Regions from separate parts of the Homo sapiens genome. Here all the other regions are reported to be linked to region 3. Evidence: microRNA targets listed by miRTarBase, many of them from high-throughput screens and not tested one by one. Region 3 holds a microRNA gene; each other region holds the end of a gene's coding sequence.
What was found. Region 3 holds the annotated microRNA hsa-miR-190a-3p (CUAUAUAUCAAACAUAUUCCU, at 5,132-5,152, opposite strand). A microRNA usually pairs through its seed, bases 2 to 8, with sites in the 3' UTR of a target mRNA and lowers its output. Matches are read on the target gene's strand: a 7mer-m8 pairs with bases 2 to 8, a 7mer-A1 pairs with bases 2 to 7 and ends in A, and an 8mer does both.

Region 1: miRTarBase lists DTX4 as a target of hsa-miR-190a-3p. Seed matches in the 3' UTR shown: 7mer-m8 at 4,127-4,133, 7mer-m8 at 4,125-4,131, 7mer-m8 at 4,123-4,129, 7mer-m8 at 4,121-4,127, 7mer-m8 at 4,119-4,125, 7mer-m8 at 4,117-4,123 and 2 more.
Region 2: miRTarBase lists LHFPL5 as a target of hsa-miR-190a-3p. Seed matches in the 3' UTR shown: 7mer-m8 at 5,057-5,063, 7mer-m8 at 5,059-5,065, 7mer-m8 at 5,117-5,123 and 7mer-m8 at 5,119-5,125.
Region 4: miRTarBase lists FBXO48 as a target of hsa-miR-190a-3p. Seed matches in the 3' UTR shown: 7mer-A1 at 1,381-1,387, 7mer-m8 at 4,428-4,434, 7mer-m8 at 4,430-4,436, 7mer-m8 at 4,432-4,438, 7mer-m8 at 4,434-4,440, 7mer-m8 at 4,436-4,442 and 2 more.

Annotation. Positions count from the first base shown.
Region 1 is chr11:59,203,522-59,210,643 of GRCh38, reverse strand. DTX4 (deltex E3 ubiquitin ligase 4) reads right to left here. Exons shown (of 9, transcript NM_015177.2): 9 at 2,056-5,968. The coding sequence ends at 5,735. It overlaps MPEG1 (macrophage expressed 1), which reads left to right. Exons shown (of 1, transcript NM_001039396.2): 1 at 1-2,134. Among named protein-coding and RNA genes, the nearest start is that of MPEG1, 5.8 kb to the left of the region's middle.
Region 2 is chr6:35,818,325-35,825,423 of GRCh38, forward strand. It overlaps LHFPL5 (LHFPL tetraspan subfamily member 5), which reads left to right. Exons shown (of 4, transcript NM_182548.4): 3 at 1,113-1,139; 4 at 4,658-5,746. The coding sequence ends at 1,123. Among named protein-coding and RNA genes, the nearest start is that of LHFPL5, 17 kb to the left of the region's middle.
Region 3 is chr15:62,822,038-62,829,159 of GRCh38, reverse strand. MIR190A (microRNA 190a) reads right to left here and starts at 5,203; the gene lies at 5,119-5,203. All of the region lies in intron 54 of TLN2 (talin 2), which reads right to left.
Region 4 is chr2:68,457,870-68,464,980 of GRCh38, reverse strand. FBXO48 (F-box protein 48) reads left to right here. Exons shown (of 4, transcript NM_001024680.3): 3 at 1-141; 4 at 611-5,559. The coding sequence ends at 772. Among named protein-coding and RNA genes, the nearest start is that of FBXO48, 5.9 kb to the left of the region's middle.

The DNA of each region.
Region 1 (7,122 bases), not on the chromosome of region 3:
GAAATGGCAAGTGCAACCAAAAGTAGGTATATTCGTGACTTCTTGTTTAGGTCTCTGGGCCAGGAAATTCATACTGTTACATGGATAAGGTTGGGATTGGGGAGAGGGAACAGTTGGGACTAGAAGCAAAAGTGATTCTGGGACTAAAATAGGAAGCAGATGTCCTTTCCCAATGTGTGTTGCTGTCTTCACCTGAATGCATTTGTGTAAAAATAGCGGAGGGACAATGTGAACATTTGTATTTGGAAGCTATGAATTTACTCTGAAGTTTGCAGTTGTTTCCAATTTGTGAGCTCTAAGAGTTTCTGCCTGTAAGAACTACTCTCCTTTTATTTTGATTTTTAAAAACCTGTCTGAATTTCACACTCTTAGAGCCTGGAAGAGCCCTGAAAAGACACAAGTCTTGCCTGGCTACTGCTTTTTAACTTTGAGGGCTCTATGTTGACAGACTGTTATCTCCTCTGGGTGACCTCAAACATCTGAAAAGAAAGATGTTGCCTGTGCCAATTCCACTTTTTCCAGCTGCCCCTTGATGAACACTCCCTTATACCAGACCACTCTTGGACTTCTGACTGGTGTCATCAAGTCCTCAGAAAATATTTTAAGTTATTTTAAGTTATTAAGGAAGGGATGATTTGGAGACAAGGAGTAATGAAAGATGGGTAAAAACTGGAAAAGATTCTGGTGCTAAGTACTACCCCTTCATCTTCCATGGATGGTCATTACCTTTCCTGTCCTCCTGTTATATGAACACACACACACACACACACACACACACACACACACACGCACACACATACCACATTTCAATAAGTCTTCATTGTTCTGGGTCCTTACCTTTCCTGTCCTCCTGTTATATGAACACACACACACACACACACACACACACACACGCACACCACATTTCAATGTCTGCATGGTTCTGGGGGTAACAAAGGCAAGAAGTTAAAGTAAGACCACATTTGAGTATTACTTACTCTGTAGAATCAAAACAGAGTAGTTAACACCAATTATGCAAACTACTTTTTTTTCCAGCAGAAAGGGAGCTGACATGATCAAATCCATGTTTTCAAATGAACTGAAAAAGGCATCCAGCACCACTTATAACACATTTATTTCAGTTCCAGGCTGACAGCCCTGGGGCATCTAGCAGGATGCATAATTGTCATCTGGTGAGAGTTGGGACTTTGCTCAATTTTAATACCAATCTCTCCTGATTGTAATTACCTCCACTACTTTCATGATCCCCCTACAATATTTTTTTAAATGATATATTTATTCACTGAATCAAATGTCATTAATGAGTTATCTTCTGTGGAGGATGACTGTTCTCTTTGTTAATGTTCACAATCAAGATCTTGGGCTGAGAAGAGGCCCTTCACCCAAGGAGTTTGAAGTATCACAGTGTGTGGGAAGGTGGGAACCAGGATACCCATTCATTTCCAACCGAGACACAGAGAAGTGAGTCACAGAATTTGAGCCCGCTCTCTTGACTGCCCAGCCAGAGACACTGATTTCTGTAACCTCTTCACTTGATCCTGCCTCTTAAGCATTAAAACATTCTCCTAAACCTCTGAGTGTTTTGTGGGTTCTGGGTGTTTTGTACATTTTAGCCAAGCTAACCACTTGTCTGCAAGTACTGACTTTCCTATGAATTCTTTGAAGATTATTGAGTCAGAAAGGAAAAATATAGCCCCAAATTCCCAGGCTTTTAATGCATTACATTAACTGCCTATTGAAATGAGAAGTTCTTCACAAACTTGTATACCCACTAACAAGATTGCACATAAACATGCATTAAAGTATATACTAAGAAACCCTCTGTCCAACGGCTCATGCATATGAAGTCCGAACATGGGAGTTTGCCAATTGCATTCATCAAGTCGTTTTGCGGAGTCAGATCCCTGATGGAAGAGCTCACAGGCTCTGCCTTCCAAGTCCTGGGTTCCTAACTGGTGACCTTAGCCTGGGGTCTGTGGGGAGACCAACCCTGGCTTCCAAGAAAACCACATTCCATGGACTATCAGAAATAGACACAGATTTGGGTGACAAAGCTGGCTCTGTATTTGCATTTTATTTTTGTGTTCTTGTCAGTTTGGGAATGATTAATATTAAACATTTATTTGAGAAACAACAGCCTGTAAATAATTTAAACACACACTATATTGCAGCCAGGCAAAGAGACCTTTAAAAGTGAATATTCGTGATTCTAAAAGTGTTTTTCTCCCACACGTTCACTTACTCATTTTCCCAGCAATGTGGTCTGTTCCTTTAGGCAAACAAAGTCTAGCCAGGTCAAATGTGTGGGTGGGTAATATGTGGAAAATTTGTTTTTAAGTGGTTGGGGAGGGACTTCCCCCACCCAGTGGCAGGGCTTGTGGTTGCTTACAGACTCAGGGAGGTAACCCAAATCCCTCACAGATAGGTGCACTAATCTACAAACAGCAGAAGGCCAACAAGAGTAACAATTTTGTGGTTGTTCATTTGCCATTTATTGTTCTGCAAAGACACCTCATGAGCACCAGGTGGCGATGTCCTTTCACGGAGCAACACCAAAGACTTCAAAAACATTCCAGTTACAAACAGAACAATTCACTTAGGACATTCACCTGCCTCTCCCAGAACCCCCAATCTAATGCCGGGGACCACAGAGAAGGAAAGGGGTCAGGGGTCCTTTCTTGTACCAGTGAGCCTTCCCCCAGTTTTCTCATGCACACAACAGTGCAATACCAAGACGAGTACTTTTGACCAAGTATAAAACCACAGAGAAGACCAAAATGTACAAAAATGGGAAGAGAATGAAAACACAAAGGCACACGCAGCCACAAATACACAATTAACCTTTTAGGGGATGAGCATCTGACGAGGTTTGTCTCCAATCCAATTTGTCATCCCTGGAGACTCTGGAAGGGAGAAACTAGGCTGCTGGTGCTAAGACCATGAAAGGGAAGGCATGGAATCCCCTACTTGGGCCAGGAGAGCAGAGCAGAGCTTCTAGTGGGAAAACACTCTGTGTCAAGGTAGTAGATGCACAGGGCTCAGCTGGCAGGGTTCTCACTGAAATCTAGACTGCACCTTTCCAGGTTGGCACAAGACAAAGGGCAGAGGAATGCTCCCCGCCTTGCCGGGCACAGTGTTAGAAAGGAAATTCAAGATCCCTACTGCCCAGAAAGCCACACAAGAACAGCACGAGGATGAGGTAGCCCCTACTGGGCATCTGCAGAGAGGACAAGAAAGGGGGCACAGACACAATCAAAAGCCCAGGGGAAAAGGCTTGAAGGTATGAAGTCGACCTCTCCAAGTGGTATTGCCACAGGCACAGCGGCTCCCTTTCCATCTTGAGTCTTCTTCCTTCTGCTCCTGGCCACCCCCTTCCCCACCTATACCTTCTTCTCCCTGATGTGGGGAAACTGATCTCTCCCCAGTGCCTAATTCCATTTTGAAAGTCTGTCTTCTTTTCTTCCCCACCTCCTACTGCCTCATTGTGTCTTTCTTCCCATGGACCCTCAGCCTATTTCTGCATCCTTGCGGCCAAGAAGCTCAGCAGATACTTGACCAGTGTGCGAAGGTAGAGACGGCATGAGGCTCTCCAAGTAATCTCTGTACATGGTAACCTGACAAAGGGCATGGGTGTGATATTAAACACCGCAGGGATGTCTCTTCCATTTAGTTCAGGTGTTTCCTTCCTAACTATGGCAGGAAATTGCCCTGTGGTGCAGTAACCTTGGGACCAGTCTCCTGGTCTGCTGGTGAGATACAATGGCTGCCTGCCGACAGGAGACACAGGGACAAGGATGGCAGAGCAATTCCTCCCATCAGAGCTCCCTCTGGTGGAGCTGATCAACATCCCTGTAACCATTTGGAAAGAGAGCAAAGGCTCAGCACCAGCACATCCACAGAACTGGGTGACAGGCAGGTGAATCGACTGACAGGCAGGTGAATCGACTATCCACCCCAATGTCAAAATGGCTGGAGGCCTAACAGCAAGCAGCTATGGGGCTGGCTTTATGAAAGATTGGCCTCCAGTTCCCATCTAAGTACCATTTTTGAAGGTTCTCTTGTTTCCATTTTTCTAGCATCAAAAACCTTCCAAATATTATGAAATATATATGCATATATATATATATATATATACGTCAAACCCCCAAAACATGAGGTATATAAATTCAAATTAGTATCCAGAGGAACTTCCCCCAAACACATAGTTCAAAGAACCCACTTTCAAAGGGGGAATTGGGTTTCCCTTCTTGATCCCCCCTGTTCTCCTCCCTGGCCCCCAATTCGTTCCTTACTGGGAGCCAAAGGCAATAAGAATGTTGGGGAGGAGATAGGGTCTTGGGACACAACAAGATGCAGATTGGACCAGACCATATTGTGATCCCAACTCCATTAGGAATGAGCTAAAGAGATTCTCTCCCTGCTGTAAGTCAATCTATAATAGATGAGGGAGATGAGGGACCCAGCAGCTCTGGGCTCTGATTAGCAAATTTGCATGGAAACAGATTGAAGCCTTCATAGAAACAAGACTGGATGGAGATGAGCTCTGATCCAATCTTGAAAAGAAATATAAAAGGATGAGTTCAGCCCTCACCTCATTGCATCTCCCCAGGCACAGTTCTGTCTTCATTGGGGTTTCAGTTCACTACGGGATAGGTTGGCAACAGGTGAGGAACGTCAAAGGACCACAGCCTGGCTGTTGGAGCCCCATCAGAACTGGGGTTTGGCATCTTGCAAAACAGAGTGCAGGGACATGACGGGCCTTCCCTTCAAGCTGGCCCAGCAATGCACACACGCCCACACACACACGCGCATGCACAGACACAGAGGGCACAGAGCCCAGCATGGGCTCCACTCACAGTGACTCGATGAAACTCATGGAATCTTTGAGCTGGTCTAGAATGAGTTGGGAAGAAGGCTGTGGGCTCCTCTCCCTGAGGACAGTTCAGATGCTCAGTGGGATGCAGGCTCTGGTTTGATCAGAGAGGGTCTAGAAACAGCATCATGGGATGCCACTCCAAAGAGGAACCCCAGAGTCCATCCATCCACATGAGAGAACCAGATGCCTCTTTGGACAGGTGAGAGCTGTGAGGAGGAGAGGAGGGCCCAGAGAAGCCAAGGACTGTGATGACAGCAGAATGTGCTCCCAGAGGCTTTTCCTTCTCCGACCCTCTTGGGAAGAAGTGCTTCCTTGCTCTACACCAAGGCATCAGTTTCTGATGTCACAGCAGTTTAGTGATTCACCCCTTTGCCCACCCCCCAACCTTGCACAGTGAGAGCTCCCTGCCTCCAGCAGAGGGAGAATAGCAGAAACTCCAGTCTCAAAGCAGAGTGGAAGTAGCAAGAAGCCGGCTGAGGCAAGAAACCCCGGCTTCCCAAAGCCAGGATATGGAGTGCCTAAGCACTGCCCATACCCTAGGTGTGCTGACCATGCCCCTACTTGGGAGGTGGGGTAGGGAGGGGATTCCTGCCTACCCAGCACCAAAAACTCCATGGGAACAGACCCAGGATGGCCCTCATCCCATCTCCCTTTGTGTTGGATGAGATTTATGAATGATGTCGCTATATTCAGTCTGGCTCCCACTGTGGTTGGGAGGGATGAGGGATGGACACAGGGCAGGAGGGGAGGATAGAAAGTTGGGAGGGCAGGACACCAACTTCTTCTACATTGACTCACTCTCCTCACTTCCTGTCCTGCAGTCTCCATGGCCCCTCCCACCTCAAAGCTTTTCTGGCCTCAGTCCTTCTCCTGGGCAGTGCTGTCCTCAGAGATGCCCTGGGCAGCCAGTTCAGCCAGCACATTATCCAGGTAATTGGCATCTGGGTAGCCATGGCCAGTGAGATTAGAGCCAAACTCTGTCTTGTGGTGGACCTCATTCCAGATGACGGTGTCTGACTCGCCTGTGGTGCTGGAGGTGCCAATGGCAAAAATGAGGCGGCGATCCCAGGCCACGAGCAGCAGCTTCAGAACCTAGAGGGATAAAAGTGGGACATGAAAGGCAGACATTAATTGGCAGTCAAAGACTATCCCTTGGACGGTAGAGAATCCTCCCAAGGGCCCCATCCCTTCCTGCATCATGATACCCTAAGCAGCCCAGGGGAAAGAAAGAGATTTGGACTTGGAGTTTGGGAGCTACAGGCTGAGTCCTGGCTCTGTCACTGAATAACTGTGTGACCTTGGAGAAGTTATAGCACCTCTCTGAACATTAATTTTTTTATGAAATGGCAATGGTACAATCTGCCTCTAAACGTTGTGAACATCTTACTGGACACTCCATGAAAAGTATTTTCACACCAGTGCCTACAACGCACTAATTGATAAATGTTATCTGCCAACATAACGGCTGCATTTTGAAAGACAGGATCTAGGAGTTGAAGGCGCTTATGATCTGAGAACTTCTGAAGTTCTGCCCTTCATTACTGCCACCACTACCTCAATGTAGTATTAATTTATCCAAAGCTGAAGCTGTGCACTATTTTTCTAGTGACATCTTGGAGCACTCTGACTTTCTCGAGGTGAGAAAACTGAGGCTCAAAGAAAGTTTTGGGGCTTGCAGAATGTTCTAAATCAGTTAAATTAAAAAAAAAATGTTTGTTGAGCAAGACTAGTGGCTAATGCCCTGTTCCAGGCCTTGGTCAGAGTAGTGTCCAGCATGAAGAAAAAGCATCCAGTGAAAATGTCTTGGGTTGAAAACTGAACTACTGTAAACATGGTATGGGCTGGAGGAGAGGAAACCATAATAGTATTAGTAATGAAAGCAGACATTAGAAATATGAGCTGCTATTTCCTGAGTGTTTACTTTCTCAGTGTTGGGCATTGGGACATATAATCGTTACAGTAATCAGATGATATAGGTATGCCCATGTGCCACACATAGTGACATTTTGGTCAATGACTGAACACATATGCAATGGTGATCTCACAAGATTACAATAGAGCTGAGAAATTCCTATTGCCCTGTACTTACTATACTGTACTTTTAATCATTATTGTAGAGTGCACTCCTACTTATTTACGAAAAGAAAAGTTAACTGTAAAACAGCCTCAGGCAGTTTCTTCAGAAGGTATTCCAGAAGAAGGCATTGTTATCATAAGAGATGACAGTTCCACTCCTGTTATTGTCC
Region 2 (7,099 bases), not on the chromosome of region 3:
ATATATATATATATATATATATATGTATTTTTTTTTTTTTTTTTTTTTTTTTGAGACAGATTCTGGCTCTGTCACCCAGGCTGGAGTGCAGTGGCATGATCTCAGCTCACTGCAACCTTCACCTCCTGGGCTCAAGTGATCCTCCCATATTAGCCTCCCAAATAGCTAGGACTACAGGCCCATACCACCACACTTGGCTTTTTAAAAAAATTTTTTTTGTAGAGACGGGGTTCCACCATGTTGACCAGGCTGGTCTCAGAATCCTGGTGTGCACCTCAGCCTCCCAAAGTGTTGGGATTATAGGTGTGAGCCACTGCATCCAGCTTGTTAGTGAATTATATTAATTAAAAAAAAAAGGAAGTGCTGAGGATCTCATAGCATATATAAAGCACTAACAATGCCTGCACATTGCAAGTGATTAATAAATTAGTTCTCCCTTTTTTTTTTTGATGCCACAGTAGCAGATCTGATAGTTCTTTCTCCTTTCTGTCTTTCCAGCATATTCACTATTTTTTTTCCTTTGAGACAAAGTCTTGCCCCGTCATCACCCGGGCTGGAGTGCAGTGGCGTGATCTGGGGTCACTGCAACCTCCGCCTCTCATTTTCAAGCGATTCTCCTGCCTCAGCCTCCCAAACAGTTGGGATTACAGGCATGTGCCACCACACCTGGCTAATTTTTTGTATTTTTAGTAGAGACAGGGTTTCACCTTGTTGGCCAGACTGGTCTCGAACTCCTGGCCTCAAGTGATCCACCTTCCTCAGCCTCCCAAAGTGCTGGGATTATGGGTGTGAGCCACTGCATCGGGCCATATTCATTTTTTATATCACCCATCTGCCCAACCAATAACAGCTAATGTGCTTCAGCTGCCTAACAATGCCTTTAGGCACTGGAAGTACAGTGGTTAAGGGAAATCTAAGTTGGAGCTTATGGTCTGGTAAGGGAGACAATCATGCGATACAGTTACAAGCTGATAAATGATATGAACAAAAAAGTGCAAGCTTTCTTGAGAGTAAGAGGAATCTGATGTAGTTTGGAGATGGAGTAGTGTGCAGGAAATTATCCTAAAAACGAGACTTGGTAGTAACGTATACTGTTCTCTCCTTCATTACAGAGGAGGTGTGAAGCAGCTGAAGGGTCGGTGAGTAATTCTATGGGAGGGTGGTCTGCGTGCCCTTAGAAAGGCTGGGGCTCTCTGCTTCCTTACTGAATCCTCAGGCATCAGGACACCAGGGGCTGGGCTGTAAGGCTGTGATGCTGCTTGGGGAGAGAGGACCAACACCCCACTGGGGCAGGAGCTATTTGGCCTCTGAGACCCTCACTGGGGAGCAAACAGGAAGCCTTTAGTTTTACCTGTGTCTTTTTTTTTTTTGAGATGGAATTTCGCTCTTGTTGCCCAAGCTGGAGTGCAATGGTGCGATCTCGGCTCACTGCAACCTCCACCTCCTGGGTTCAAGCCATTCTCCTGCCTCAGCCTCCCGAGTAGCTGGGATTACAGGTGCGTGCCACCATGCCTGGCTAATTTTTTGTATTTTTAGTAGAAGCGGGGTTTCACCGTGTTAGCCAGGATGGTCTCCATCTCCTGACCTCAGGTGATCTGCCTGCCCCTGCCTCCCAAAGTGCTGGGATTACAGGTGTGAGCCCACGCGCCTGGCCTTACTTGTGTCTTGAAAGGCGGAAAAAGATCAGGGAAAGAAGAAATAATTTCAAACACAAATTCATGTTTTATGGAGCCTGGCACACAAGAACAGACTGTTTTTAGAAGTCATTATTGTAATTTGGACCCTTATTTTCAGAAAGAATTTTTAAGTGATTTGTAAGAAACATACTAGAAAACCTAATAAAATAGAAAATAAAAGTCATAGACAGAAAAACAAATATTCAAAAAAGCTATACTAATAGTATTACTGTCTTGAGTATTAAATTTAGCTCTGATTCCTCATAGCCGAGGCAAAAAGAAAAACAGTAAGTTAACCAGTTTTAATGTCTGGTTTAAAAAGAAGCGCAACATATTCATTTATCTTTTAAGTTTCCAAACATTTGTTAAATGTGATTTAACAAGAACATTCAGGAATGCATTTAAAAAAGAAAAAGAGGACCGGGCGCGGTGACTCACGCCTGTAATCCCAGCACTTTGGGAGGCTGAGGTGGGCGGATCACGAGGTCAGGAGATCGAGACCATCCTGGCTAACATGGTGAAACCCCGTCTCTACTAAAAATACAAAAAATTAGCCAGGTGTGGTGGTGGGCACCTGTAGTCCCAGCTACTTGGGAGGCTGAGGCAGGAGAATGGTGTGAACCCAGGAGGCGGAGCTTGCAGTGAGCTGAGATCGTGCCACTGCACTCCAGCTTGGGCGACAAAGCGAGACTCCATCTCAAAATAAATAAATAAATAAATAAAATAGAATAAAATAAAATTAAAAAAATAAAAAAGAAAAAGAAACCCTCACAACAGTGTTGCCTCCCTAACAGCTGCCTGGAGGACCTACAGCCGACCAGGCGCTTTCTGTGGGAAGGAGGGTTTAGCTCCATTTAAGCTGTTTTTATTTTTGCAAAGTGCCTTCCAATCCTTGACCACATATACTTTAAAAATAATCATACATAAAATTGTCACCTCCACCTCCTGCACTTATTAGAGCATGATTCTCAAACTTCAGCGTGCATACAGTCATCTGGGGATCTTGTTAAAATGCAGATTCTGCTGGGTGCAGTGGCTCATGCCTGTAATCCCAGCACTTTGGGAGACTGAGGCAGGCAGATCACCTGAGGTCAGGAGTTAGAGACCAGCCTGGCCAACATTGGGAAACCCCATCTCTACCAAAAATACAAAAATTAGCTGGGTGTGGTGGCATGCACCTGTAATCCCAGCTACTCAGGAGGCTGAGGCAGGAGAATCGCTTGAACCCAGGAGGCGGCGGTTGCCATGAACTGAGATCCCATCACTGGACTCCAGCCTGGGAGAGAGAGCAAGACTGAGTCTCAAAAAAAAAAAAAAAAATGCAGATTCTGATTCAGTTGGTGGGGTGGGTCTGGGGCCGTAGACCCTGCATTTCTAATGAGTTTTTGGGTGACAGGCTGCTCAAACAGGAATCACATTTTGCATAAAAAAGCATTAGAGCATAATCTTTGTGTGTGTGTGTGTGTGTGTGTGTGTGTGTGTGTGTGTGTGTGTTCTTGACACGGAGTTTCAGTCTTGTTGCCCAGGCTGGAGTGCAATGACATGATCTTGGCTCATGGCAACCTCCGCCTCCTGGGTTCAAGCCATTCTCCTGCCACAGCCTCCCAAGTAGCTGGGATTATAGGCATGCGCCACCACACCCGGCTAATTTTGTATTTTTAGTAGAGACGGGGTTTCTCCATGTTGGTCATGCTGGTCTCGAACTCCCGACCTCAGGTGATCCTCCCGCCTCAGCCTCCAGAAGTGCTGGGATTACAGGCATGAGCCACCGTGCTCGGCTCCCTTTTTTATGTTTTTGCAATATTTTTAATTTAGGTTTTTCAAAGCCAGAAACTCCACAGCACTGGTGTACCACAATTTTTTTTTTTTTTTTTTTTTTTTTTTTTTTTTTGAGACAGGGTCTTGCTCTGTTGCCTAGCCTGGAGTGCAGTGGCACAATCACAGCTCATTGAAGCCTCAACTTCCTGATGCTCAAGTCATCCTTCCACCTTAGCTTCCTGAATAGCTGGGACTACAGGCACATACCTCCTGCCCAGCTATAATAATTTTGTTTTTTTTGTTTGTTTGTTGAAGAAACGATGTTTTGTCATGTTGTCCAGGATGTTCTCGAACTCCTGGGTTCAAGTCATCCTCCTGCCTTAGCCTCCCAAAGTGTTGAGATTACAGGCATGAGCCACTGCGCCTGCCTGGTGTACCATTTTTTAAACCAGACCTTGGTTATTAGACATTTAGGGTTGCTATCATAGATAACAAAACTTTTTGCTTCTGTTGATAATATCCCAAGTGGCATTACTGAATCAAAGGGCAACCACACCTCTCTGTTTGCCTTTTTTTTCCTCACACTACATTTTAAAAGACCTAAGTTTTTACTTGAATGACAATCAGTACTATCTTACACATGAATGAGGAAATTTGCATGTCTAGGTAGAACTGAAGTCAAAATTTGAGCATACATAGGGAAGTGTTTATTATTTATTTTTGATACATAGTTTTTTTGTTTTGTTTTGTTTTTTGTAATTTATTTTGAGATAGCATCTCGCTCTGTCGTCCAGGCTGGAGTGCAATGGTCTGATCTCGGCTCACTGCAACCTCTGCCTCCCAGGTTCAAGTGATCCTCCTGCCTCAGCCTCCCAAGTAGCTAGGACTACAGGCACGTGCCACCACGCCTGGCTAATTTTTTGTATTTTTAGGAGGGACAGGATGGTGTTGATCTCCTGATCTCGTGATCCGCCCGCCTTGGCCTCCCAAAGTGTTGGGATTACAGGTGTGAGCCCAATTTTGGTATTTTTAGTAGAGACAGGGTTTCACCATGTTGGCCAGGCTGGCCTCGAACTCCTGACCTCAAGTGATCCACCCGGCTTGGCCTCCCAAAGTGCTGGGATTACAGGCGTGAACCACTGCACCCAGCCTATATTGGTTTTTAAAATGTCAGATTTTAAACTCTTGGAATCTTTTGTTCTTTTGTTTTTCTTATACCACAGGTCATCTATTTCCCAGACACAGGAAAACTAGGGAATCAAATTCTTCAGAGATAAGAACTTGTTCTTCCAAGTTTCCTTGTTCCTGGCTACTATAGGCCTGAAGCCTGAAGCCTTTTATTATAACACTAAAACTGGACAGTCTCCTGAGACAAGACCTCCTACTGTACTCTTTCTGGGGAAGCAGAACTGCAGTGACCCACTTCAAAGATATTCAGAGGCTGAGCGGTGCAGGGAGTGCTCAGTTGCTGGGGATGGGATCCAAGTCCATTTCTTAGTTCCACACAGCAGCAAATCGCTTCACCTTCTTGAAGCCTCTCCTCTGTAAAGCGAGAGGGCTAAATGGGTCCATCTCTAGGGGCCTTCCCTCCCAGGTCTGTGTCTGATAGCATACACACACACATATATATACACACACACACACACACACACACACACACACACACATACATACACACACACATATATATACACACACACACACACACACACACACACACTCTCTCTCTCTCTCAAACACACACAAATGCCCAACCAGCTCTAAGAGGGCACTGAAGAGGTGGCTGGACATGTGCTGGGTCATTTTTAGGGTGAGGTGTAGGGGGTCTTTTGCTTCTCCCTTCTCATATTTTGTTTTCTTATTGCTGCTCAGAGGGGGGTAAGGAATGGAGGGGCCATCAGAACTTGAATCCTTTAACATCCACCAGGAAGTTTTATGAAGAGTGGGTGATAGGATCTAAAATCTCTGCAGACTTTTTTCCTCCCGGGAGCCAAATATCACATTTCCTTATGGTGCCCACACTGACTCAACCAGAACTGGCTACCAGCTTCAGAAATGTGTTACTTATGTTCAAGTAATTTGTTATAGGAATAGATGACATTTTTTTTTTTCAAAAACTTTGGATTTGGCATATAGTCATCTATAGGGGGATTGGTTCCAGGATCCCCTGCAGATGCCAAAATACATGGATGCCCAAGTCCTCAGCTAAAAATAGCGTAGTATTTGCATATAACCTATGCACATCCTCCTGTATACTTTAAATCATCTCTAGATTACTTATAATACCTAATACAATGTAAATGCTATGTAAATACTCGTACTGTGTGGCTTTTAATTTGTATTTGTTGTTGTATTGTTATTTATTTTTGAGACAGAGTCTCGCTTTCTTGCCGAGGCTGGAGTGCAAAGGTGCCATCTCAGCTCACTGCAACCTCTGCCTCCCAAGTTCAAGAGATTCTCCTGTCTCAGCCTCCTGAATAGCTGGGATTACAGGCATGTGCCACCATGCCTGGCTAATTTATTTATTTGTTTATTTATTTATTTTTGAGACGGAGTCTCATCCTGTTGCCCAGGCTGGAGTGCAGTGGCATGATCTCAGCTCACTGCAACCTCCGCCTCCCGGGTTCAAGCAATTCTCCTGCCTCAGCCTCCCGAGTAGCTGGGATTACAGGTGCCCGCCACCACGCCTGGCTAATTTTTGTATTTTTAGTAGATATGGGGTTTCACCATGTTGGCCAGGCTGGTCTGGAACTGATCTGCTTGTGTCGGCTTCCCAAAGTGCTGGGATTACAGGTGTGAGCCACCGTGCCCGGCCTGTATTGTTATTCTTTACTGGCTTTTCTTCCTGAATATTTTACATCTGTGGTTGATTGAATCTGCTTAGTGGAACCCACAGATACGGAGGACCAGCTACTAAATGGTGAACCTTCAGTTGGCCTCCAAAGGGGAATTCAATTTAGGTAATAGTTCATTGTAGCAAAAGCCAAGACCAAAATCGATTCTTTAGGCTGTCCCCTCCCTGGGGGGTGGTGCATAAAAACAGGATTTTGTTGATTGTCTGCAGTGAACAATTCTGAGGAAAAGGTGTTTTTTCTGGTCCTTGTCCAGTTAGTTAGTAAAGAAACTACCTGGGTGTGCTGTTCTCTCATAGGGGAAGTGTGGGTAAAGAGCTGAACAGATGAATCTTGTTGCTTGATCAACCGATCAGTGATACAGGAACAGTTTTCCTATCTTTGGCTGTCAGCTGTGTGTTTGGCCAATGCACTGTGACAACCTGCTCAGTCACTAGGAATGAGTATCCCAGTGTTGTCACAGTTAAATTGGTGGTGGGAACTTCCATAATGGGATTTGATCTTGTCACTTGGTCCATGGCAGCTAGTTTATGAGAATGATCACATTTGTGTGTATATATATATATTTATATTTATATATATTTTTTGAGACGAAATCTTGCTCTTGTTGCCCAGGCTGGAGTGCAATGGCGCGATCTTGGCTCGCTGCAACCTCTGCCTCCCAGGTTTAAACGATTCTCCTGTCTCAGCCTCCCGAGTAGCTGGGATTATAGGCGTGTGCCACCACATCCGGCTAATTTTGTATTTTTTTTTTTTTTTTTTTTTTTGAGACAGAGTGTCGCTCTGTCACCTAGGCTGGAGTGCAGTGGTGCG
Region 3 (7,122 bases):
ATATATATATACCTACTATGTACCCTCAAAAACCAAACAGAAAAAAATTTTAAAGAAAAATAAATAAATAAATAAATAAATGGATAGCCCTCACTGCAGAATCACCTGAGGATCTGGTTAAAGATGCAGATGCTGTTTTGGTAGGTCTGGGGTGGGAGTCAGGAATCTGTATTTCTTACAGAGGTGGTTACACACTACTCTGTAGGAAATGCTGGCCTGGACTCAGGAAAACAAACACCATTTAACTTAAACCTACCAGCCTGTGATCCCCTCCAGGGTGAGACTGTGTTTTATTCAACCTATGTTTCTCTAGCACAAAATCAGGCAGAGGAGCCCATGTGATGATCAACATTTGCTGAATGAATATATCCATTCAAAATGCATTTCCCAAGTTCCAGAGTTCAGCCAGAGCACAACGCACAAGGTAGGAGAAGGAGAAATACACAGAGTAAGCATCCACATCATTAGCATCCACTCCTGAGCCCTGGTGGACAGATGCATACACAGCTATGAGCAAGTTCCTGCCCTGTTTGAGGCCTTGAGTTGTTAATTGTACACTCTACTTGCAGCCTTCAACTGGAATTCACAGTTTGTGACATTTAGTCATGCATGGACATACAAATGTAAACACAGTGGCATTTTACCAAGAGGCACTCTTATGTAACAAGACAGCACTGGGAAAAAGAGTGAACAGATGTACAAACTAAGCTTCTACTCTGCCTAATGAAGGTGTTTGTTGCTGCCTCTGCATGCTGAATTAACTTCTCCTTTGATATACTGTTCTTTTCCCCCTTCCCCTTCATTTGAAAAGGCTATTTGGCCAGGTGCCCATCAGCTCTAAGCAATCGTCTTTCCTGGGCTGTCTGGCCAACTCTTGCTGAGGACAGATTTATCCCTACCTGGGCTTTTTGGTAGCTTCTAGAAAGGTCTGAGTACCCTGTAGTTGACCTCTTCCCTGCATGCTGACCTTCCTTGCTCACCCTTTAAAAAGTCAGTGGTCTGGTGAGATCCCTCTTGGGAAAGGCTATATATTGGGTTGGCTCCCTTCCCCTGTTTCCCAGTTGGGAGAGTATTTGGGACCCCTTTATGTTGCTCTGATGGGTTTAAAGTTTCAGTAGCTATATGTCCCCTGGAAGAGGAAATGGTGGTGGTAGGGGAAGTGGTGTGGAAAGTGGAGAAGGTAAAAGGGACAGCCTTTCCTCATGTTTCTTTTGACATTTGGCCTTTCATGGATTCTGAGAACATGGTCTTCACACTAATTCATTCATCTTCTAAGCCTACTTCCCCTCCTAACCTATCTGATGGAGTCATTACAAGCACGTGATTAGTATATGTAAAGCATGGCTGACTCATAGGAGATGCTCAAAAACTATTAGCAATTTCATTATCAAAAATTGTTTTTTTCAGGTTTGGGGCTAAATTAATCTGTTTCTCTGTCTAAACCCTGTTATGTATCCATAATTCCAATAAAAATTCTTCTTGCTATTTCTGATTACAGCCTAAATTCATTATAAGTAAAACCCACAAATCAGTAAGCGTCAGGTACCAAACAGCATAGATGGGCACCAGCTCCTCTCTCAGCACCCAACCAGGAGTGGGACAATCCGGGTGGTAGTCACTGTTCTGTACTTTGACTATGTGACTGTGGAGTCTTCGCTGCCCTTTCTCCAGGTATCAGTTACTCAGTTTTCTGTCACTGGAGGAGCAACTCAACCTTCCTGGTCCTTTTGCCTAGACATGGACAGTTCCAAATTAAACTTCTCTTAGAAGGCGGTGACTAAAATAAGCAGGAACTACCTTTTCTCTTCTGATTTCTCTTGACCTCCTCCTCAATATCCTTACCAACATCCCCCACTGCCCCCGCTCCTCCTCAACGTCCTTACCCACTTCCCCTGCTCACTGTCCTTGTCAGGTCCTGGGCAAGTGTTGGGCAGGGGAAGAGAATGTCCTCCCATGGTCTTTTTCTTGGCCTTTTCTTATGCCCTGCAACCCCACAGCTCCTTCCGCCAATGAACTTGAAGGTGAAGGAGCATAAGGCATGCATAGGAGATGGCCAAAGGGCTTGCCTCCCTCCCTGAAAACTTACTTTGAGGGAATGCTTTGTTGAGAGCTAAAAACACAATGGTCGCCCTTCTCACAACTGGCTCCACAAACTGAAGAACCACCCGTGTCATCTTTCCAGTGGGGTCTCAGGCTTTGCTCTGTGTTACTCAGAGTCTTGCAGAATGCCTGCTACTAAAAATAAGGTCATAGTGCATCAGAAACTTTAAAAAAACCCTCTTGGATATATATTTTTTAAAGTGTGAACATTTTGCATTTAATTTAAATGTCCTTGAGGGAAAAAAGGAGGCCAGTGTCTAGAACTCCCACAACAGGAGTGAGGCATTTTCCTGCCAGTTGGAAGCCGGAGTGGAGCAGGCAGCCACATTTCTCTTTTTTTTTTGTTGTTGCAAGTTTGGCTGCTACTAGTTTGCTTCTGGTATTGAACTGAGAGGTGCCTTGAGGGAGGCCTTAGCCTGTATGCAAAGCCCCAAACTGTGCAAAGGTTAGATCAGCTTCTCCTCTGGAGGACCCATGGATGGGGTGGCTTCAGGACTGCCACCTTTATTAGTTCAAACAAAAGGTACACCTCCCAGAACAACTGGAACTGCTAAGAGCCAGGCATGGACAGCTGGCCTTGTCTCAGGGAAAGCTCCAGAGAGACCTTAAACAGGCAAAATGGGTGGCAGAGAAACTGCCAAATGGCTGTGCCTGTGACTGGGGAGGGACCACACCCTCCGCATCCGAGGAATACGCGCGAGTTCATGCAGTGTCTGCTGGAAAAGGTCCGCACCTGCATGATTAGTATCTTGGGAGTAGTTTTCCCATAGTATCCATTGCTTTACTTTTGTGTTCAAAATGGAAAGCAACGCCACTGAAATAATCTTTTAATCACTATTTCTGTTTAAGGGGCCCTTGAATGTCGATATAGAAAGCACAGACAAAAGATAACAGGGTTCTTCCCAAGCTGTATCAGATAAACTCCCTACATCTTAAGCCCCCTTTCTGTGTCTGTGAAGGATCTGACAAGGACCTACTGGTCTACCCTGGAGGGGAGTCTCCCATACTTGCTTTTCTTATTTATTTATGTTTTTGAGACCGAGTCTCACTCTGTCACCCAGGCTGGAGTGCAGTGGCACGATCCCGGCTCACGGCAACCTCCGCCTCCCAAGTTCAATCGATTCTCAGCCTCCTGAGTAGCTGGGACTACAGGCGTGCACCACCATGCCTGACTTATTATATATATATATAAATATATATATATATAATATATTTATATATATTATATATTATAATATATATTATAATATAATATATAATATATATTATAATATATAATATATTATATAATATATAATTATAATTATATTTAATATATATAAAAATATATTTTTATATATATTTATATTTATATATATATTGTATTTTTAGTAGAGACTGGGTGAAACCCAGCTGTTGGTCAGGCTGGTCTCGAACTCCTGACCTCAAATGATCCGCCCACCTTGGCCTCCCAAACTGCTGGGATTACAGGTGTGAGCCACCATGCCCGGCCCCATACTTGCTTTTCACACCCTGTATGCTCCTGGTCTGGAACCAATGAGTGCCACTCAAAGCCCAAGTGCAGCCATACAGAAAATGCTGTATTTGTCCTCCTCCTTCCTGAACAGTTGGTTCCTTTTTCCCTTCACCATATTAATCACTACAGAGAACATGCTGGTCAGTGACAAAGTCACCCAAAGAAACAAGAAAATCACATCAATTCAAACAACTGGGCTTCGTCTGCAGGTCCTTTTGAAACCATGTTTTTCTTTGTTCGTAATAACTTGCTGTCTCTTTTCCATGGCCATTTGCCATTTCAGTCAAACAATGTAACTGGACTCAAAACCAAAGCCGGTGTTCTCTAGCTGTGTGAAGGAGGGACTGATTGGGGCAGCATCTTGAAACCCGCCTGACAGAGCACCTGCCAACACACACAGATCGCTTCTCAATGGAGAAGGATTCCAGAGACAGGATCCATTATGTAACTCCAGAAGCCAGGACTCCAACATTACAGGACCCTCTCCTGTGTCATCACCTCTCTGATGTTGCTGTTGGTGACCCTGTCACTATGCATTCACCTGTAAGCAATGTGGCAATGACTTCTAGACACAGTAAGGGGAAGCTTTCATGACTACCTGTTTAAACCATTTGCTTACACCTTTTCTCCTCCAAAACATTGAGAACAGTAGTTCTCTTTCCAGAAAGCAGTGCTCACAAAGTATTTTGTTTGTTGAGAGAACTCAGAATGAACTCACACATACTTCACAGGCTTTTCTATAAGGAAGAGGTCAAAACCAACCAAAGAAGGCTGTTATGTACCAGAAAAAATGTTTTCTATATCATAATCCCAAACTTCCTGCCACAGTCAATTAGGCTATGATATTACTTTCCGATTGTTGGCTTATTCTAAATATTACCAACCTCCACTGACAAGTTAACCTATAACAGGAAATTCAAGAGTTCAGTCAACATTATATTACCTTCATGAGATATATTTAGTCCTATATCCAAGGTTTGTACAAAGCTCACTGACTCAGTATCCATGCAGCTGGTATGGAGGATTTGCTTTATACATTCTGTTACTGTGAGTGGAAAGGGAAGTCATAGAAAACTGATCTGTGCTCCTTGAATTTTTGCTGAAACCCTGACATGAACTTCTAAATTGAAGATCAGGATAAAAATGAACCAAAATGAAACATGAATCTAGATGTGTTTGAGGCTATAATCCTGACCTTTATTCTGTGTCACAGACATGGGTTGGAACCGTTTTTTCCACCAAGCATATTGAATTCCTTAAGGATTCATCACTGCACAAAACTAAGCCACACAGAATACCCCAGGCTCTTATGAAACATCAACACTTATTGTTTCTATAATAAGCAAGTAATCCAGTAATACTGATACAGGTCTCAAATGCTATAAGAAGAAATGGAAGATAACATGAATTGTAATGAGTGCTCCATCTTCTAAATCTACTTGTGATTTTAACGTGTTCTTTCCTGTTGCCTTATAAACTTTATTAGGAACCCCCGGAGACAGGGCAAGACACTGTAGGAATATGTTTGATATATAGTTGGATTAAATAACAACCTAATATATCAAACATATCACACAGAGGCCTGCAGAAAAGGCATCCAGGTTTGACTGAGCTCGAGACTAGGCACAGTATTGAAGGTTACGGCTGCAGGGGGTGGTCACTTTTGCAGCAACTCCGATAACTGTCTTTGGAGCACAAGTCTGCCTGCAGATGTGGAAACGGCGCCATTAACAATACTGTCAGCACATGCACCAGCGCTCACTGACATTCTCATCTCCCCAGGTGAACAGCAGATTCAACGGTGCATGTCTGGGAGATCCCAGGCAAAAAGTGATGCTTAAGTTTTAAGAGCCTGAGGTGGAAATGTACCAGAATCATCATCAAAGACCATGAGCCATTCTCCTTTAAAAACAGGCAACCTGAGACGGTGGTGAGCAGAGCATTTTAGACAAAATTACTGTCTCTCCCCAAACTCTTCCTGAAAGCAGTGTGAATACTCCCCAGAAGGAACACACATCCATTTTATACTGAAGGCATGTGTGTGTACCAGGGTAGGGTTATAGGGATGTAATAAGCAATTGTTTACTGACAGTACCCTGAGGATTTTTTTAAGGTTTTGGGAGAGAATGGAGAGAAGTGATTCAACTCAAAAGACTGGCTGATTTTGGTGCAGATTGTTGTTATTGTTTTTTAATTGGGGAAATAAATTCCTTTATAAAGGCAAGGAAGATATTTCATGCAAAAGTTATTGCAATGTGCCCTATTAGGCACAAAAACTATGGTTTGGGTTGCAGGTTTTCCAAAACAGTTTCATAGATAATATCCACCTCTGGCCATCAGGCAGAGAAAGACTTCAGACCATTGTGAAGCATTCTAGAAGTACCCATCACCCTTCCTAATACGATGGGAGTGAGCTAAGGTAGGAACCCTCAAACAAAGGATTCACATCATCAGTTATGTTAACCTTGACCTTGGCCGAAGGACTCCTTGGCTTTCCTGTAAAAACCCTCAATGTAAACACAAAGGCTATATGATCCTAGAGTACTGTAGGGAGTCCTCACAGGCCTACTTCAGCAGTCATTAATTTTTAAGGTGCTGTTATTTTTTAAACCTTTGTTTTATAAAATGTTAAAACACAGACCCTTCCATCATCCCAATTCCATCATCATTCTTGTACATTCCCTACTTATTTTCTTCATCTGTGAGTTTTTAGAGTTGTAATCATAATAAGTACATAATTCTGCATCCTTTCTGTTATACCATGAGCATTTTCTTCGTGCTACACAGTCCTAGCAACCATTATTTTTCATAGCTGCATAATATTATAGCTGCATAATATTCCTTCGAGGAGTAGCTCTAAGGGCACACATAAACTACAAATGGCCTTTGTGGGACTAGACAAGCCTTCTCTGACAATGGGGTGGGAAACAGGGGCTGGTATGGACTGAAACTGCCACCCAGGGCCATACATAGCCCTCCCAGCTGAGTGACAGTGGTCGGACCCTGGCAAGGTAATTCGCCTCTTGGTGCTTCTGATTCTAATGGACTTTTTCCAAGGATCAGATGAGTGACTCCCATAAAGTACCCAGAAGACTGCCTGGCACAGGCTTGGCAGCTGAACAACGCGAGCTTCCTGGTTTTCTTTCTTCAGGGGCCAGTGGAATAATTTTTATTTCAGGCATTTCCTAGGGAGTAAGTCCCAGACACACATTTTCAGTGATGATGGTGATAATAATGGTGATATAGTTACTATCTACCAAGTCTCACTGTATGTCAGGCAGTGTTCTTATACTATCTTATTTAATTATTATAACAATAATCCTATGGGGTAGGAACTTTAATAATTTTGTTTTCCCATCTGGAGTCGTGAAGTGAACGACCAGACACGGGGAAACCAGGACTCAGACAAGAGCTCAGAAGGACCCTGCGGAAGGACAAAGGGAAAGACATTGAAACAGGAGCTCTTAGAATATGGTGAAGTGTTAATGTTAAATTAGCACCAGGCT
Region 4 (7,111 bases), not on the chromosome of region 3:
TGCAGGGCTTCATTGACATGCAGGAGCTGGAATGACACAATAAGAAACAGTGACTCTTTATGGAAACCTCACTGCATGACTGTAAGAGCTGTGTGCCGAAGAGAAATAGATGATGATCTAGAAAGTGGTTATTCCTGGAGGGTAAGTTTAATCTTTGCGATCTGCAGTGTTGTTGACAGCGTTATGATAGCAGGTTTGCGCCAATTCTAACTTCTGCTTGGAGGAGTCAGAATTACATATGCAGAATAACACAGACAGTGTGTTGACTCTTGGAAATGAGTTAAAGTTATTAGTCTTTTCCTGCTAACCACACTGTTTCCACACTATCTTTCATTTATCCTTTTGCATTTTTAAAATTCTAAATTCGGGAATTTTCCTGCGTTAACCAGAAGGGAATTAGCTCCTTCTTTCCACTTCACCTTATGCCACTCAGTATAAATACACATATACATACACACACGTACACAGACACATACATTTATTAATGTACGTATATATAAATGTAAATACTCTTTTTTTCAGCCCTGTCAATCTGCTTCTCTTGCTTTAAACACATTCACTAACCAACCACCTACTACAGTCTTTTTTAACGGTGATTTACCTCTTTCAGGTGATACTGCTGAGGAATTACCAGAAGAGTAAAGTGAAACACGAATGGCTAAGTGGCAGATACAGCAACATTTGTTCTCCCATTAGCCTACCAGAAAAAATCATGTACCCAATGGATGCAGATACATGGGGGGAAATTCTAGAAGCAGAACTGGAAAGATAAGGGGAAAAAAAATCACAAATCTCAGGTCTTTGAAAGTTTAAAACTTAAATGACTCTTAGGTTGCAAAAGCGATATCTTTATTCGTTCATTTTGTTGTTCACCTTTTTAAAAGAAAATGAAATGGAACTATTATAAAAGTAAAGCTTTATTTTTGTTTTGCACTTTAGTAAAATTTTTCTGGTTTTATTGTAATGTGGAAAAATCATGAAATGTTATTTTTATAAGAAATAATATACTGATAGAGTGATTTCCAAATACAATGTTTCATGTATTTGTGTTAATATATTTGCAATACTAAATGTAAGAGTGATTTGTATGTTCAGCTTAATGATAATTCAAAATTTCAGGAAGCCACTTTAAACTGACTTAAAGATTCATTAAGTGGTGGTTATAACTAGGCTCATGGGAAGACTAGCTAAGTGAAATTAATAGCAATACATTTAAATTAATACATTGACATTTTAATGACTTTAACATTTCTATTTCAGTGGAATCAGATTGAAATGTCAAATAGTGAAACTATTTTTAATGTGTTAAGCCTGTGGTTTAGTTTTAAGTTAATGTCATCTCAGGGCTAAAGTTTGTCCAATTGAGATTCCCATTAATTTTATATAAACCTGGAACGGCTCTCAGGAGCTGAAAGTAAGTGGAAAGTTTCCAGAACACTTTACCATCAGAATGCCACACTAGCCTGGTAAAACTCTCTTTCTGACAGCCTTATAGCACCATCTAGTGTGCTATTCTTAGATAGCAAGACAAAGGACTTTCAGCTCCTTTTTGTTTTCTCCATATTAAAAAGAAAACTGTTATTCTAAAGAATCCTTAACACTTGTCTTTGTTAAAGTTTATAACTTTTTAGGAACCTTTATTTTAACTTTTAAAAACTTTTGTTTCTCTTTTTTCATAAAAACAGATTATATGCTACTCACTATAACAAATTGTTTATTCTGAATCTGTGGTTACCACCATAGTAAAAAAGTGTCTACAAACTGCTTTAGTTAGTGTGGGGTTTTCTTCTTAAAAACTGTTCTCTATAGCATTAAATATAAGAATCCAGGAAACCAATATTTAACAAATAGGCAAATATTAGAAAGATGCCCCACTATATGCAAATTCTGTATGTTGAATCAAGCAGTAGATAATTAATTGTCTCCTACTATCTTCTTAGAGTTGGAAGAGTCCTTGAAAATCAGGCAGTCAAGTGTCCAGGACTATTCAGTAATTTTCTCAATAGGAACACTGTCAGTCAGCCAGCCCAAGCTGAAATCCTGTACTTCTACTAATAGCATCTCTGTTATGTCACAGAACAGTCCAGTTGTAGTCTAGGCTTGCACTGAAGACCACCTCTCTGTAACGTTTGCCTTCTAGCCCCACTTCCACCCTCTAGAACCAGGCTGATTCAGTCCTTCCTGTCTATGATTGCCAGATATTTGAAGACTGATAGCCTGTCTCTTCCTATGTCTTCTCTCCAATTCCACTGATGATCATAGAGTATAATTTCTAGACCCAACAACATTCTCTTCTGCCCATTTACTCTTAACAAAAGAAAGGGGCTGTGCGCCATGGCTCACGCCTGTAATCCCAGCACTTTGGGAGACCAAGGTGGGTGGATCACCTCAGGTCAGAAGTTCAAGACCAGCCTGGTCAACATGGTGAAACCCTGTCTCTACTAAATATACAAAAATTAGCCGGGCGTGGTGGCAGGTGCCTGTAATCCCAGCTACTTGGGAGGCTGAGGCAGGAGAATCGCTTAAACCTGGCAGGCAGAGGTTGCAGTGAGCAGAGATCACGCCACTGCGCTCCAGCCTGGGCAACAAGAGTGAAACTTCGTCTCAAAAAAAAAGGAAGAAAGAAAGGTATCCTACTAATTTTATTTCATAAAAGATAAGAAAGCACTTGGAAATTTTCAAAGTATGGGAAAAATTAAAGCTATAAGCATTTTGCTGAATAGCATCTGTGTACAATAGTAAATGTACACATATATTTTTAGCTGTTTTTTTGTAATGGATGTTTATTATTTTTGTCCAGCCCCCTTACAATCTATCATCATCATCTGTTAATAGAAGTTATCCTAATTAGGGAGACTCACCCTTCTCACTTCCAACCAAGTGTGTGGTTTTTTTTGGCCGGGGTGGGGGGCAGTTTTTTGTTTTTGTTTTTTTGTTTTGTTTTTTGAGATGAAGTCTCACTCTGTCACCCAGGCTGGAGTGCAGTGGCATGATCTTGGCCCACTGCAACCTCCACCTCCCAGGTTCAAGCAACTCTCTGTGTCAGCCTCCCGAGCAGCCAGGATTATAGGCGCCCGCCACCATGCCCAGCTAATTTTTGTATTTTTAGTAGAAACGGGGTTTCACCATCTTGGCCTCCTGACCTTGTGATCTACCTGCCTCAGCCTCCTAAAGTGCTGGGATTATAGGCATGAGCCACCGCACCCAGCTGGGTTTTTTGTTTTCTTGTTTTTTTTTTTTTACATTATCCTGTTTTTCCCAGCCTCCGTGTTTAGTCCAAGGATGGAAACATGACCCAATCCCCCCTTTTCATAAGTTGGAAGAAAGAAGCCCTTTCCTCTTTGCTGATGAAACTGTTCCCTGCCACACAAAGAAAACGGATCTTGGCCGGGCGCGGTGGCTCACGCCTGTAATCCCAGCACTTTGGGAGGCCGAGGCGGGTGGATCATGAGGTCAGGAGATCGAGACCATCCTGGCTAACAAGGTGAAACCCCGTCTCTACTAAAAATACAAAAAATTAGCCGGGCGCGGTGGCGGGCGCCTGTAGTCCCAGCTACTCGGGAGGCTGAGGCAGGAGAATGGCGTGAACCCGGGAGGCGGAGCTTGCAGTGAGCCGAGATTGCGCCACTGCAGTCCGCAGTCCGGCCTGGGCGACAGAGCGAGACTCCGTCTCAAAAAAAAAAAAAAAAAAAAGAAAACGAAAACGGATCTTAAGTAAGAGAATGTGGAGCCACCAGGGGAAAGAACAATTGCAGGGAAAGAGGCCTGATTATATTCCAGACCCTGGTCCCAGCCATTCCTTATCTGCTTACCTAAATTAATTCAAATTGAGTTTCACCATCATACTGGGACCCCCACCTGATGTGGTTTCGTTGCCCATTTTTCAAATATGTATTATTTGTGGCTTACATTAACATCTTAGATTTCACTCTGACTTCCTCACCAGTCAGTCTTAATCTGCTATAATATGGCCATCACTCCATATGGTTGAAACTGTTGGTATCCAAATTACAAGTGACTTAATGTCTAAATCCACTGGATGCATTCTACTTGTTAATATATTTGACACACATAAACACTCACACTGACACACATAAGTACTTCTTAAAACTCTCTCCTCCATGGGTTGGAACTATAGTCTCTTGGACTTTTCTTTCCCTACTCTAACCCGTCTTCTCAGTTTCCTCCAAAGACTCGCTTTCCTTCACCTACTCATTACATGTTAGTGTTCCCCCAAAGTTCCACCTGTTGTCATCTCGTCTCTATACTCTAACATCCTTGGTGATCCCATCTACAACTCCTATGTCAGCTACCATTGTTGGTGCTAATGCCGTCTATGTCCGTGTCCCAACATCAGATCTCCATGAGATGTTCCAGAAATACATATGCTATTATCTTTTGGATTTTTATCCAAAGATAGTATAAGTATATATATATATATATAAAATATTTGATATATCCAAAGATAGTTTATATATAAGCACCTGAATCAAAACTTACCATCTCATAAAAGTAGTTCTTCCTCCAGTTCCTATCTCAGTGAATGGCATGTCCTGTTAGAAAATCACCATATTTTACTTTTCTCCATCATTCTCCAAGTCCAGCCGAGTCAATTCTTACTTGATTTTATCATCCAAATATCTAAGTAATTCACCTCTTCCCCATCTTTATCTCTGCCTCATTACTTAATTCTTGTCCTTATTTGACATTGGGATTTCTAAAATAACCTCTTACTGGTGTTCCTGCCTCCAGTTCCTTCCTTTTACTGTTAGCAGTGTAGTCTTTGTTAAACCCCAAATTTAGCACGTCACCCTAACTTAAACTCCTGACTGCATACAGGTAGAAATCAAAATTCCCCACTAAAGCCCATAGGGCCTTTAATGATGTGGTCTGGCCTACCTCTCCAGCCTGTTCTCTAACCACTGTCCCACCCTATATCTTTCTGTTCAGTCTTACAAAACTATTTCATAAAAATTTTCTCACTTCTCTGCCTTTGCACAGGCTGTTTGATATACCTGGAGTAATCCCCACCATTGATTCTTTTCTTGGCAAAAATCTATTGTAAAACTTATCATCTTGGCCTGGAAACAATCCATAACTTCTACTGTTCTGGATTAAGTGACTTTTTAGATGTTCTTGTAGTTCTTTGTATAGACCTCTCTCAAAACTGTCATATGACATTAAATTGTCTATTTTATTTGTGTGTTTGCCCCTTTACACTGTGAACTTCTTAATGGCAGGGACCATTTTTTATTTATTTTTGTGTCTTCAAAACCTGGCACACACTAGATGCTCTATAAAGATTTGTTAAATTATTTCTATAGTTATTTATTTTAATCCTACACAGAATGTATAAAAATAATTTACTATATTGTTAGTGAAGAAGATTGTATCAAAATGCAGTATACAATCCTTAAGGTATGTGGGATGCTTGATAGTAATACAAATGTATGAATAATTGTTCCAGTCTTCTCCAAACCTGTAAGAGGGAAATAGGAAAATAAAAATGTTTTGTTTTATTGTTTTGAACTCTTGAAAATAAACTTAACCTCAAAAATATCACTTATTATTTTGAATTATTGAATTACTTCCATCAGTTTTAAGTATTAGCTTTGCAAATTATGTGAATGAACATTAACTTCGATTTTTTTAGTGCTATTGCACTAAAATAACTAACAAATTATGTGCTATGATCAAGGTCTACACTGAAAGGAAACCTTTGGAACTTAGTGATAAATTTATGGTATGGGCTTAGAATGAACCATGCATTTATCAGGCCAAGCCATTAGCATCTGAAAACATGAGTGGGTGGAGCAGCATGGAAGGAAGGAATGTTCTTACTCATAGATAAAATAACATGTTAAGTGTGCACCCTGTGTACAAGAAGCAAGATTCTTGGGGAAGAGTATTAAGGAATTTTGAGTGTTTTAAATCAGTTTAAGATCTAGTATTTAGAAAAATAAATTTAGAAACCTTTTTTTTTTAGCTTCTTCTGGTTTATAACCCAATCTTAGACCAGAACATAATCATCAGTAAAATCTCTGTGAATATAAACTTTCGACCTGAGGCTACTTGCATATGTACAAACCTAATTTTAAAACTATGGCTGGGTGCGATGGCTCACACCTGTAATCCTAACACTTTGGGAGGCTGAGGCCGACAGATTGCTTTAGCTCAGGAGTTCGAGACCAGCCTGGGCAACATAGTGAGACCTTGTCTGTACTAAAAATTTTAAAAATCAGCCAGGTGTGGTGGCGCATACCTGTAGTCCAAGCTACTCAGGAGGCTAAGGTATGAGAATTGCTCGAGCTTGGGAGACTGAGGCTGCAGTGAGTTGTGATCGCACCACTGCACTCCAGCCTGGGTGACAGAGTGAGGCCCTGTGTCAAAAGAAAAGAAAAATGTAATATACCCCTGACCACTTTAACTTCATCTTTGCTTTGACTTTATATCATGTCTTCTCTCCAAGACTTCAAATGCCCTAGTAATATTAATGAAAGTAAGATGAGTAGCAACTTAAGGAAATGGGTTGGGAAGAATACATAAGATGGAAGATCACACATTTTTATTTAGAGTTTAAGACCAAAAACATCAAATTGATGAAATCAGATCAACAATGGACGAAGCTGATTAATTATAACAGCTGACATTAATTGAATGCCTTCTTGTACCAAGCATTGTTCTTACACGATGTATGCTTACTCTATATCCATTTTATGGATGAGGAAACTGAAAGAGAATGATGTTTTCCATCTATTTAATCACCACTTCCCAGCACTTACAAGAATGTGTCATACATAGTAGGTACTCAATAAATGTTTATCAAATGACTTCAGAAACTTAGAATGAATAACTTAGATGAAAGAGCCAAGAATGTCCCTCCAAGTTTTTCACTGGAAAAATTTCAAACCCACAGAAAAGTAAAAATATATGACAAATCACTATTTTGTACACCATCCACCTAGAAATACAAGTTGTTAACATGTTTCTATGTTTGTTTTGTTTATTTATTCATCTTTGCTGAAACATTGAAAAGAAGTTGCAGACATGATGATACTTCACCCCTAAATACTTCAGCATGTATCTCCTAAAAATACACTCCTACATGCAA